2 linked regions of the Homo sapiens genome follow. The protein of the gene in region 2 purifies or fractionates together with the protein of the main gene of each other region. This does not show direct contact. Each region holds a gene or a part of one and is shown on either strand. Other genes may lie near its edges. The genes, in order: SOD2 and MYH8.

The links.
Region 1: the proteins of MYH8 (region 2) and SOD2 purify together in Homo sapiens (co-immunoprecipitation; one large-scale study listed by IntAct). This does not show direct contact.

What each region holds. Positions count from the first base shown.
Region 1 is NC_000006.12:159,672,456-159,676,278, reverse strand, and holds part of SOD2 (superoxide dismutase [Mn], mitochondrial isoform A precursor), read left to right. Parts: 3' UTR 1-3,823. UniProt on the Homo sapiens protein: Destroys superoxide anion radicals which are normally produced within the cells and which are toxic to biological systems.
Region 2 is NC_000017.11:10,411,635-10,415,457, reverse strand, and holds part of MYH8 (myosin-8), read left to right. Parts: intron 1-73; coding exon 74-166; intron 167-278; coding exon 279-342; intron 343-973; coding exon 974-1,072; intron 1,073-1,162; coding exon 1,163-1,266; intron 1,267-1,417; coding exon 1,418-1,556; intron 1,557-2,729; coding exon 2,730-2,848; intron 2,849-2,938; coding exon 2,939-3,088; intron 3,089-3,823. UniProt on the Homo sapiens protein: Muscle contraction.

The sequences.
Region 1 (3,823 bases), on a different chromosome or scaffold from region 2:
GCAGCATGATTTATAATCCTTTGGGTATATACCCAGTAATGGGATGGCTGGGTCAAATGGTATTTCTAGTTCTAGATCCCTGAGGAATCGCCACACTGTCTTCCACAATGGTTGAACTAGTTTACAGTCCCACCACCAGTGTAAAAGTGTTCCTATTTCTCCACATCCTCTCCAGCACCTGTTGTTTCCTGACTTTTTAATGATTGACATTCTAACTGGTGTGAGATGGTATCTCATTGTGGTTTTGATTTGCATTTCTCTGATGGCCCATGATGATGAGCATTTTTTTCATGTGTCTGTTGGATGCATGGATGTCTTCTTTTGAGAAGTGTCTCTTCATATCCTTCACCTACTTTTTGATGGGGTTTGTTTTTTTCTTGTAAGTTTGTTTGAGTTCCTTGTAGATTCTGGATATTAGCCCTTTGTCAGATGAGTAGATTGCAAAAATTTTCTCCCATTTTGTAGGTTGCCTGTTCACTCTGATGGTAGTTTCTTTTGCTGTGCAGAAGCTCTTGAGTTTAATGAGATCCCATTTGTCAATTTTGGCTTCTGTTGCCATTGCTTTTGGTGTTTTAGACATGAAGTCCTTGCCCATGCCTGTGTCCTGAATGGTACTGCATAGGTTTTCTTCTAGGGTTTTTATGGTTTTAGGTCTAACATTTAAGTCTTTAATCCATCTTGAATTAATTTTTGTATAAGGTGTAAGGAAGGGATCCAGTTTCAGCTTTCTACATGTGGCTAGCCAGTTTTCCCAGCACCATTTATTAAATAGGGAATCCTTTCCCCATTTCTTGTTTTTGTCAGGTTTCTCAAAGATCAGATAGTTGTAGATGTGTGGTATTATTTCTGAGGGCTCTGTTCTGTTCCATTGGTCTATATCTCTGTTTTGGTACTAGTACCATGCTGTTTTGGTTACTGCAGCCTTGTAGTATAGTTTGAAATCAGGTAGCGTGATGCCTCCAGCTTTGTTCTTTTGGCTTAGGATCGTTTTGGCAGTGCAGGCTCTTTTTTGGTTCCACATGAACTTTAAAGTAGTTTTTTCCAATTCTATGAAGAAAGTCATGGGTAGCTTGATGGGGATGGCATTGAATCTATAAATTACCTTGGGCAGTATAGCCATTTTCACGATATTGATTCTTCCTATCCATGAGCATGGAATGTTCTTCCATTTGTTTGTGTCCTCTTTTATTTCCTTGAGCAGTGGTTTGTAGTTCTCCTTGAAGAGGTCCTTCACATCCCTTGTAAGTTGGATTCCTAGGTATTTTATTCTCTTTGAGGCAGTTGTGAATGGGAGTTCACTCATGATTTGGCTCTCTGTTTGTCTGTTGTTGGTGTATAAGAATGCTTGTGATTTTTGCACATTGATTTTGTATCCTGAGATTTTGCTGAAGTTGCTTATCAAATTAAGGAGATTTTGGGCTGAGATGATGGGGTTTTCTAAATATAAAATCATGTCATCTGCAAACAGGGACAATTTGACTTCCTCTTTTCCTTATTGAATACCCTTTATTTCTTTCTCCTGCCTGATGGCCCTGGCCAGAACTTCCAACACTATGTTGAATAGGAGTGGTGAGAGAGGGCATCCCTGTCTTGTGCCAGTTTTCAAAGGGAATGCTTCCAGTTTTTGCCCATTCAGTCTGATATTGGCTGTGGGTTTGTCATAGATAGCTCTTATTATTTTGAGATATGTCCCATCAATACCTAATTCATTGAGAGTTTTTAGCATGAAGGGCTGTTGAATTTTGTCCAAGGCCTTTTCTGCATCTGTTGAGATAATCATGTGGTTTTTGTCTTTGGTTCTGTTTATATGCTGGATTACTTTTATTGATTTGTGTATGTTGAACCAGCCTTGCATCCCAGGGATGAAGCCCACTTGATCATGGTGGATAAGCTTTTTGATATGCTGCTGGATTCAGTTTGCCAGTATTTTATTGAGGATTTTTGCATTGATTTTCATCAGGGATATTGGTCTAAAGTTCTCTTTTTTTGTTATGTCTCTGCCAGGCTTTGGTATCAGGATGATGCTGGCTTCATAAAATGAGTTAGGGAGGATTCCCTCTTTTTCTATTGATTGGAATAGTTTCAGAAGGAATGGTACCAGCTCTTCCTTGTACCTCTGGTAGAATTCGGCTGTGAATCCATCTTGTCCTGGACTTTTTTTGGTTGGTAGGCTATTAATTATTGCCTCAATTTCAGAGCCTGTTATTGGTCTATTCAGGGATTAAACTTCTTCCTGGTTTAGTTTTGAGAGGGTGTATGTGTCCAGGAATTTATCTATTTCTTCTAGATTTTCTAGTTTATTTGCATAGAGGTGTTTATAGTATTCTCTGTGTACTCTGTATTTCTGTGGGATTGGTGGTGATATCCACTTTATCATTTTTTATTGCATTTATTTGATTCTTCTCTCTTTTCTTGTTTATTAGTCTTGCTAGCGGTCTATCAATTGTGTTTATCTTTTCAAAAAACCAGCTCCTGGATTCATTCATTTTTTGAAGGTTTTTTTGTGTCTCTGTCTCCTTCAGTTCTGCTCTGATCTTAGTTATTTCTTGTCTTCTGCTAGCTGTTGAATGTGTTTGCTCTTGCTTCTCTAATATTTTTAATTGTGATGTTAGAGTGTCAATTTTAGATCTTTCCTGCTTTCTCTTGTGGGCACTTAGTGCTGTAAATTTCCCTCTACACACTGCTTTAAATGTGTCCCAGAGATTCTGGTATGTTGTGTCTTTGTTCTCGTTGGTTTCAAAGAACATCTTTATTTCTGCCTTCATTTTGTTATGTACCCAGTAGTCATTCAGGAGCAGGTTGTTCAGTTTCCATGTAGCTGAGTGGTTTTGAGTGAGTTTCTTAATCCTGAGTTCTAGTTTGATTGCACTGTGGTCTGAGACAGTATGTTATAATTTCTGTTCTTTTACATTTGCTGAGGAGTGCTTTACTTCCAACTATGTGGTCAATTTTGGAATAGGTGCGATGTGGTGCTGAGAAGAATGTATATTCTGTTGATTTGGGGTGGAGAGTTCTGTAGATGTCTATTAGGTCTGCTTGGTGCAGAGCTGAATTCAATTCCTGGATATCCTTGTTAACTTTCTGTCTCGTTGATCTGTCTAATATTGACAGTGGGGTGTTAGAGTCTCCCATTGTTATTGTGTGGGAGTCTAAATCTCTTTGTAGGTCTCTAAGGACTTGGTTTATGAATCTGGGTGCTCCTGTATTGGGTGCATATATATTTAAGATAGTTAGCTCTTCTTGTTGAATTGATCCCTTTACTATCATGTAATGGCCTTCTTTGTCTCTTTTGATCTTTGTTGGTTTAAAGTCTGTTTTATCAGAGACTAGGATTGCAACCCCGGCCTTTTTTTTTGTTTTCCGTTTGCTTGGTAGATCTTCCTCCATCCTTTTATTTTGAGCCTATGTGTGTGTGTCTCTGTACGTGAGATGGGTTTCCTGAATACAGCACCCTGATGGGTCTTGACTCTTTATCCAGTGTGCCAGTCTGTGTCTTTTAATTGGAGCATTTAGCCCATTTACATTTAAGGTTAATATTGTTATGTGTGAATTTGATCCTGTCACTAGGATGTTCACTGGTTATTTTGCTCGTTAGTTGATGCAGTTTCTTCCTAGCCTCAATGGTCTTTACAATTTGGCATGTTTTTGCAGTGGCTGATACTGGTTGTTCCATTCCATGTTTAGTGCTTCCTTCAGGAGCTCTTGTAAGGCAGGCCTGGTGGTGACAAAATCTCTCAGCATTTGCTTGTTTGTAAAGGATTTTATTTCTCCTTCACTTATGAAGCTTAGTTTGGCTGGATATGAAATTCTGGGTTGAAAATTC
Region 2 (3,823 bases):
CAGAGTCAAAACCTCTGTCAAGGCTCTCAGACATCTGGAGTCCCAGATGTGAGAACTGCTCCTTCCTTTGCAGGGGACTCTGGAAGATCAAATCATCAGCGCCAATCCCCTACTGGAGGCCTTTGGCAATGCCAAAACTGTGAGGAATGACAACTCCTCTCGCTTTGTGAGTCTCTTGGTCTCAACCCCTAACTTCCAGAGTAGCCACGTCTGAATTATTATTTCATTTGCATCTCTCTTTGTGTTTCAGTTTTCTAATACTAAATATTCTTTTCAAGGGTAAATTCATTAGAATCCACTTTGGTACTACAGGGAAGCTGGCATCTGCTGATATAGAAACATGTGAGTAACAGGACCATTGAAAATCAAAACAGAGAGACAAGTGATTTCATTTGCAGGGATATTTTGCCACCCTTGCTGTGCATGAAGCCTGTTAAAAGGGTAGTCTGCTGCCAGTACTGCCTGTAAGCTAATGCTAGGCTTACCCATAATCCACTGAGTGCTCCCTTTATCTCAATCTCAGACTTGATGATTCTGTAACACATCCTAGAGAAATTCCTGCCTCAGAAGCAACTATGATTTTTTTCCAGGACAAAAACTGGGCTACTTATGGGTTTCCAATACATCTCTGTGGTTTGCTCCTGATCTGAGTTTTGGTAGATGTTTCCAAGGTAGGCCCTCACCACCCAGAGTGAATCCTAGGTGATCCAAAGAAGGAGGGGATATTAGGGATCAACTAAAATACAGAGGTCATGGATCCTTCATGTGAAAAATATATTTGTCCTAGAGCAGGTATGCTTCAGTTGCTGCCCTTAGACAGTGAGAATCACTGTCTATCTGCAATTGGTCATCAAGTTGAAATCTCATTGGAGCCAAATGTAATGCTCCAAATTTGACCAAAGACGTGAGGTTCATTTACTATCTCAGAAGCATTGATACTTTTTTCAAACTCGATATCTATTTCCCTCTCCAGATCTTTTAGAAAAGTCCAGAGTTACTTTCCAGCTAAAGGCGGAAAGAAGCTACCATATTTTTTATCAGATCACTTCCAATAAGAAGCCAGATCTAATTGGTAAGAAAGAACTTAAAGTCATAGATAGAAGTTAATATTTTTATTAACAATGTCTAATGTAAAATGTATGCCCTGAATTCTGTGACCCAGAAATGCTCCTGATCACCACCAACCCATATGACTATGCCTTCGTCAGTCAGGGGGAGATCACAGTTCCCAGTATTGATGACCAAGAAGAGTTGATGGCCACTGATGTAAGTCAAAAACACTAATTTTAAAAATCCATTATGTATGGAAATGACAATAGCAAACTACTGTAGGTGTGGTTACCTTAGGATATGTATAAATTCTCTTATAAGTTAGTCTCTTCAGCCCTAACTTTTGTCCTCTCATTTTTCCTGGTAGAGTGCCATTGACATCCTGGGCTTCACTCCTGAAGAGAAAGTGTCCATCTATAAACTCACAGGGGCTGTGATGCATTATGGGAACATGAAATTCAAGCAAAAGCAGCGTGAGGAGCAAGCTGAGCCAGATGGCACAGAAGGTACCAAATGAAACTTTATCTGGGTTTAATGAGAGAATGTAGCAAAAAAAAAAATCCTATTTTACACTCACATCTCCTTTGTGGCTGGACTTGCGACTTGTGAAGGGCATATACACATTTACACACACTGCATGCTTTCCTCACCCCCTCTCTTCCTTACATCTCCATGTCTCCATCATTTCCATCCAGCCCAAATAAGTCACAAACAAACCCCAATAGCCACTTATAAGCACAAACTATGAGATAGAATGAGATATAATAGTGCTCCTGGTTGGCCTTGGCAACGAAGGTGGGTATATGTAGATAACTGTAGACTGCTCTATTTCAGCACTAGATAGGAAGACCCTAGGAACTGACAGCAGAGAATCTGCCCAAATACAGGGCTGGGGAGAAAGATACCCCTAGAGTCATCTGTAAGCAAGTGTGTATTGTCTGTATATAAATCCATAGACAATATAGGCAGCAAGTAAGAGTTAAAAAAAGGAATTGAGAAAAAAGATCATATATTCTACGTATGGAAAGAGCACGCAATATACAGGATCTACCCCAGAAAGACAGTTATCGCTCCTTAAAGCCTTTCCTGACCACCTCGAATTGACATTCTTTCTTCCTCCTCTAAATGTTTCAGCAGTTACTGGTGTACCTGACATGTGGCATTTATTTACGTTATAGTCACCGACAGAATTTTAGAAAGGGATTCTGTAGGGATCATGCAGTAAATTTTAATCTCCACATTTGTAGATAAAGAAATTAATCCAGCAAGGTTTAATAGGGAGGTGAAAAACTAAGATAAGAATCAAAATATTCTGACTTTTACCCTCTCTAACAGTGAATATTTATCTTATCCTTCCAACTACACCTAATGTGTCTTAAAAACAGGGACTATGGCTTTTACTTACAAAAAACTGCAAGACGGCAATAAATACTACATATGTTTACAGTTGATGAAAAATTTCTTAAAAACTACTTGAAATAAATCACTAAAGATCAGTATAACCAATCAACCATTTACTGGCAACCACATGCTCTAAGGTTAGAAAACCTCATTTGGCCTTTTATAGAATTATTTAAGCTTTTTATTTAAATAATAGATTGAATTGGAGAAAAATGGAAAGATTAGGTAAAAGAGGATATCCTTCATGAAACAACATGTCCTGAACTGTGTCTCTGCAGTCGCTGACAAGGCAGCCTATCTCCAGAGTCTGAACTCTGCAGACCTACTCAAAGCCCTCTGCTACCCTAGGGTCAAGGTTGGCAATGAGTATGTCACCAAAGGCCAGACTGTGCAGCAGGTAAGTGCATGACCTCAATGAATCACACACATCTCAGGCCTTCATGGCATGTCTTTAACAATACCAACAAACATTACTCTATCTGTGAAGGTGTACAATGCGGTGGGTGCTCTGGCCAAAGCCGTCTACGAGAAGATGTTCCTGTGGATGGTCACCCGCATCAACCAGCAGCTGGACACCAAGCAGCCCAGGCAGTACTTCATCGGGGTCTTGGACATTGCTGGCTTTGAAATCTTTGATGTGAGTTATATTAACAAGAATTAAGAAGGAGGCAATTGTGGGCTTTGATATATTAGGTATTATCATTATTCATCCACATTTATAGCGTCCATATTACTTGCTCCAACACTGCACCTAGAACAAAGGTTATCTCCAAAATAGGAGGTAACATAATGTACTACTAATAATAGCTAACGCTCACTGGGCCAGCAGTGTACACTAGGGACTTCAAAACGTTACCATATTTAATCTTCAAAACAACCCAAGGAGTAGCTAATATTCCCCCAACTTATATAGAAGAAACTAAGATGCAGGGAAATCAAAACACTAGCTAAAGATCCCACAGGTGCATAAGACAAATCCAGGACAGCAACCCAGATCTACAGCATTTGATCCATACACAAGGCTTCTTCATAGAGAAGAAAAGGCCCAAAGGTAGAAGCCTAGAGACAGATGATAGTCTGTCTCTCCTCTTCCAGATTTGTCTTACATAAACTATTTTACCTCCAGGGCATCAGTTCACCATCTATAAAATAAAGGAGTAAATTATTACAAAGACCTTTTAGATCTTCAACTGCTATACTATATCAGGTCCCTGCTTTCACACACCTGACGAGGGGGATTTGCTAAATGTCTGATATAAATAGAAGAGAAATTACCCTAATGATTTCACTTTATACACCAAGACCTTTATATTAAAGGTCTTAAGATCAGCTTTCCTTAATAATGTAACAGCCAAAGGTGAAAATGTGAACT